Regions from separate parts of the Homo sapiens genome. Here region 2 is linked to region 1. The links come from fine-mapping of genetic effects on gene expression. A gene starts in region 1. The other region holds a variant in brackets. All regions are shown on one strand. Distances are from middle to middle. Region 1 holds the start of GRIP1 (glutamate receptor interacting protein 1). Region 2 overlaps GRIP1 (glutamate receptor interacting protein 1).

Region 1 (2,921 bases):
CATTTAATATAGTATTTTCTATTGATTAGTGGTTGCTTTAGCTAGACCATCCTTGGTAAAAGAATTCTGTTCTTTTCAAAAACCTTTAAAGTAGATGCTTATGATATTCAGATGTTTTTCACACACAAATTATTTTTCTATTGGACTCAAAATACAAAGCATATGCATTTCAATAGCAGTGGATTGAAATTGTTTGAGTTCATATTGAATTTATGAATGAAGAAAAGAAAGTTTTACCACTAAATTTGGAATGTTGGAAGTTATTTTAAAAACCAGCTTGAAAGTTTTTTCACAGCCTGAAGAGTAGAGAATAAAACTGTATGAATAATTCATAAAGTCCTAGAAATATTAATCAAGTAGTTTAGACAGTGATATATCTTTTCATTTTGACTAATTGATTTTTTTTTTCTTAAACTTCCTGGCCAACTGTCTAATTTTTTGTCCTGAATGTTTATGTTAACTCCTGTGGGAGAATTCTGGATTTTGATTAAAATTCCCTACCAAATGTTAGTTCGTATTGACTATATGGCGAGCAGGCTGCTGCTGGCAGATGAGGAGGTGTGCTCCGCCTTCTTATCACTTTGTGAATGGATTGTGAAGGGTTTGTTAATTTGCTCTTCACTCCATTGGAGCAGATACTCACAAATATCTGCTATGTCGCAAGACCGTTTTATTTGCATAATGAGAAGAATGGTTTGGGGGATGGTTGTTTGGGAAATAGTATAATAAAGTATATTAAAAATAGAAATACTTGGCCTTGTTTGCCTTTATTTCTGGTATCTTTAGAAACAGTCTTGACTGTGTTGCTTTCCAGCCAAGTCCTTTTTTGGAAGGGTGATTAAAGGGGCTGGGACTCCATCTGCCTGATTGTCTGCCTAGCCCTAACCCTTTCTTGTATTCCCTCTATAAACAGACACTGCCTTAACTCTCATAGGTTCAGGAAGTACCAAAGAGGTCTCTGTCCTAGAGCTGCTTCCCCGCTATAGGCAGAACTGTGATTCTTTCCTCAATCCCAAATATAAACGGCCCTCCCTCTTTTTCTTTCCTTTTTTTTTTTTTTTTTTTTGGTTGTTGTTTAAAGAACATAGTACATGACCCATGCATTTCTTCCTAAAGTAAGAGTGTAAGCATTTCACTTGCATTTCCCATTAAATGAGACATATAAAGGACACTGACTTGATGCTGAGAAGGAAAGGGGCTGATGGTGGCTGAACTGACTGGATACATCGCCTTTTGCCTTAAACAGAATGCACTGTTCAGTGCTTAGCGTTAGATTTATGGAATGGCTCCTCACACAGTGTCGTCCCTGCTTTGTACAATTTGGTGCTTTGTTGCTATCGAAACGGCATTACTTTCTAAGCCATTGTGATTGTGAAGGGGGAGGAGGCTGTGGCAGGCAGGGGTGGTAGTAGTAGTGAATGACACAGATTTGCCAGATGACATGTAGCGGACCTCTGCATCAGCCAAGAGGAATTAAGCTTTGTCACTCCCCACTGGGACTACCTTTCTCCTGGTATGTGCGCAAGGAATTCATATGCTGCTGCTGCTGCAGCCACCAGAGCAGAGAGCCTTGAGTACACTTTGCCACAGAAAGCAGTGAGCAAGAATGATAGCTGTCTCTTTTAAATGCCGTTGTCAAATTCTGAGGCGACTTACTAAAGGTATCGTGCTTTCCTTGTTATTCCCTCAGCGAGTCTGTTGCAGTATCCTATAAACACAGTTTAATGGTTTTTACTTTCAAATATGACTGCCTTTGCAATTTATTGTCAGGCAACAAAGAACTCAGTGAAATATGTATAGATACATATGTACAGGTAGACTCGGCTTTGCTTTCTGTCCTTACATCTCGGTTGTGTTCGTGCTGAAATTATGAAAGCAGCTTGTGTGATTTTTTTTTTAATGACTTCATTCTTTGCTGAAAAGAGAATGTGTTTGGGTCCGGTGCTGAAGTTATTGTGGGAAACCGTCATTTTGCATGCTGATTAACTGGCCAAAAGGAGTCAAGTGTGTGTTACTGTCCTTTCTATGATACATATACTAAATGCAGCTGGCAGATTCAGGACTCGCACAGCTGGTGGATCCACAGAATAATTGTTTGTTCTATGACTTTCCAACATCTTAAGAGCTTTTTCCCTGGACAGCTTTAATTTCTTTATGTGTTAGAATTGCATGTTCAGAAAAGTATGTAATTCCAAATGCTTTGGTCCTATGTAATACTAGAAGTTTATTTGAAAGTAAAAATCATTGCTCGGAATCTTATCATCAAGAATTACCAGCTTCAGATTGTCACTCTTAGAACTCTAAAATAGTAATTAAATTTCTCTGTAATATTTAAGGTATTATTTTATTTGAAACCATTCTGGATGTGCCATCTCGTTTACTTTGTGAGCATTCTATTGCAAAGTTAGTAAATGGATGCCTTAAAAATCCTGCCTTGTGTCCATATAGATATGTGAGCTCTCTTGCCTTATTTCCTTTAGATAGAACCTTCCTTAGAGAAAATTTATTATTTAAAAAAAAACTTCATTCTGAGTAAAAGTATTTAGTTGCAAATGCCTTTCTTTTTCAGCCTGTAATATAGAGTACTGTTGAGTAATTAATGGATATAATTATGTTCTAGAAGCTCTGAACCTATAAATATGTTAATGGATGCTATTTCTGTCAGTTTAGCTTGACATATCAGAATTCTTTGATCACCAGCAGTGCAGCTAAAAATGCAATTAATATTTTATCTGGCAGAAGAATGAGCACAAAGCAAATCATGAGAAATAGATCTTGAGTCAATAACAGGAAAGAGAATAAATACTGTAGACCAACTTACCGAATGCATTTGCAAGTTGTTTGGATAGCAGAGTGAGTCCTTTAAAAGGTACTTTGGGGGAAATGTAGGGAAGATTATACATTTTAAATTAGGCTATTAG
Region 2 (2,921 bases), 290 kb after region 1:
GCCCTTGGTGCCAGGTCCTGCCTCACTGCACGCCAAGACACGCTGCATGGACTTGAATGCCCAAGGTGACAGGTTGTTCCTTGTGCTGAGGCAGCCCCCCATCTCCACGTAGCTCTGATGACTCTAAAGCTCTCACTTGTATTGAGCTGCAGTATGCCTAATAGTCCCGGCTATACCCTCAAGGTCATTCTGCACTAGACTAAAGCCTCTTCTCCTGACAGCCCCTTAGATACTCGAAGACAGCTATTGGGTCTCTGTTGAGGCTTTCCTTCTCCAAGCAAAATAGCCCCAGTTCCTTTAACTGTGTCTTCTATAATTTACTGACGAGTATCTGTATCGTCCTGTGGACCTCCCTTACGAATGTGCTTCAGTTTACCTGTGTACCCGTTAAAGTGTAACATTCAGAAAGGAAAATCACACAACAGCCCGACAGCCCGGAGCAAAGCAAGCTGGTCACTGGCATCATTGAAGACAGGAGAACTGATCAATGACACCTACCTCAACATAAGAATTTTAGTGGTCATGGCACATCTGTCACTCATTTTGCGCTTACAGTTTACCGAGATCTCAAAGTCTTGTGAATGTGTTTTTTTTTCTTTACCCGTGATATTCAGTTAAACTGCATCTCTCCAGATTGTGCTTGTGAGGTTGACTTTTTAAAAGCAAGGCACAGCTGGGTGCAGTGGCTCAGGCCTATATTCCCAGCACTTTGGGAGGCTGAGGTGGGCAAATCACCTGAGGTCAGGAGTTCAAGACCAGCCTGAGCAACGTGGCGAAACCCCATCTCTACTAAAAATACAAAAACTAGCCAGGCGTGGTGGCACACACCTGTAATCCCAGCTACTCGGGAGGCTGAGGCAGGAGAATCGCTTGAACCAGGAGGCGGAGATTGCAGTGAGCCAAGATCATGCCACTGCACTCCAGCCTGGGCAATAGAACAAGACTACGTCTCAAAAAAAATTAAAACAAAAATAAAAGCAAGGCATAGAACCACACTTTTATTTTTCCTATTCAATATTATGTTGTGAGATACAGCTTATCTCTCCAACCTGTCCCTCCAGCCTCTCAGCAGGCTCTCTGCCTTGTTCCAGGAAGCCCCTGCACATTCTCTCTGTTCCCTTTAAGGCTGTAATAGTTGCCTTGTTCCCAGGAGACTCCATAATGCACATCTTCCTCCTGGGGCTGGAAATCGATGTCTTTGCAGCAACATTCCTTACTGTTCTCTCCTTCTTCTCTAAAATATCAAGCTTGCTCCATTCATTCCTTCAACCAGTATGTAATGACTGGCTCAATATCAGGCCCATAGACCATGTGGATACACTCTTGGACAAAGGAGACATGGTCTCTGCTCCCATGGAAGAGGTTACCCAGCTGAAGGGACAGTCAGTTAACAAATAAACAAACAGTGGCCCTATCACTTCGTTAGTGAAAAGGGAAATAGAATGGAATGAC[G/A]AAACCTTGTGGGGAAAGAAGGGATATGTTTAAGGAAGTCCCACAAGGGGCTGATTCTCAGTTCCACTGTGTGGCTGACTTCTTCCAGTTGGCCTCCAGGTCAGCTTCTTTCACTCCCCATTGTCTTGCCCATTAGATGCCTCATGCCCTTCTGCCTTATCAAAATCTTAGGCATTTGGCCTCCTTGCATCTTATTAATTCTTCCTTCTAACTCTGAGAAAACCCTATGACTGCTTTACTTGGATTTAGCAAAGGTCAATACAAGAGGAGACTGGCAAATTGGTGGTGGTACATAGACTGCCATGCTCGCGGGCTGAATAGCTCTTGTGCTCTCTGTAACTTTGGACTCTCAACTCAGATAGCTATATTTCTATCTTATTTTTCTCCCTTTTGAGGTCATTTTGATCATTTGTTTTCTCTCAGAAAATGAAATTATTTCATCCAGATGTCAAATGTATTTTATATAATTAATCTCTTTTTTAATTTTTTATTTTCTCAGTTTCTATAATTATATCCATAATATTGTTCCTTAATTGGTATATTTGTGGTTTTATTATTTTCCCCATGATTCGATTAGTAACAGTTTATTTGATTTCTTTGTTTGGTTTTTATTTTTTCCCAGAGAACTGACTCTTGCATTTATTTATTAGTTTTACTCTAGTTTTTTTTTTTACGTACAATTTTACTTTTAATTTTACTCTTTCATTCAGTTCCTTTTAAATTTTATTCCTTTTATGACTTAAGTTGGATGCATGATTTATTTATTTTCATTGCTTTATAAGGATATATTCCTTCTTTGTGTTTTCATAAGGATGATAACTGAAAGGACACCAACATGTGCAGTCAGAGTCCAACTTTATTTAATGTCATTAAAGAATACAAATCATACAGAGGATAGCACAGAGTAGAAACCCAATGGTATCCTCCTCTACTCATTAGCAGGATTTTATTTTTCTCTTTCGTTTCTCTTCTGATCTCTACAAGCTCATGTTTCATCATCATCTTGCCTTGCCCAATTTCTCTAGAGTTCTTATATTTCTGCTTTGATCTCTTGTTTTATAGAGGTGATGGCTTTGCTGTGTATTTTTTAAATTTTGTGATTATTTCTGATTGGTCATGTTTATCATTTGCTCTGAACCAGGCTTTTTCTCATGAGTATTCTTCATCTGCTATCGCTTTGTTTTTCTATGCCTTTGCTCTCATTTGTCTGATATTTACTTGGTATACATGTTATGCCAATTCCTTTTCAATTACTGCTCACCACTGAATGAGATGAGTTCTTCCTGAACTGGAAGCTGCTAGAGGCTCTGTTTCCAAGGTACCAAACACACCCCAGTTCCAGCATGGTATGTGTGAGTAAATTCTTCCCCAGCTACCAGAGAGCAGCAACAGCAGGCTGCTCACAAAACAGAATTCCTCTCTGCTATCCTGCCTCATTGAGCAATTGCTCCCTTCAGTCTGTGACATGT

Evidence for each region. PIP is the estimated chance that this variant, and not a neighbour inherited with it, causes the effect.
Region 2: its variant is the best candidate, but not a certain one, in a credible set for the expression of GRIP1 in blood mononuclear cells (TOPMed, PIP 0.65).

The regions. Positions count from the first base shown.
Region 1 is chr12:66,677,590-66,680,510 of GRCh38, reverse strand. GRIP1 (glutamate receptor interacting protein 1) reads left to right here and starts at 1,435. Exons shown (of 25, transcript NM_001366722.1): 1 at 1,435-1,661. The coding sequence starts at 1,607.
Region 2 is chr12:66,387,278-66,390,198 of GRCh38, reverse strand. All of the region lies in intron 19 of GRIP1 (glutamate receptor interacting protein 1), which reads left to right. Among named protein-coding and RNA genes, the nearest start is that of HELB, 86 kb to the right of the region's middle. The variant G/A (reference allele first, on the strand shown) is at 1,453.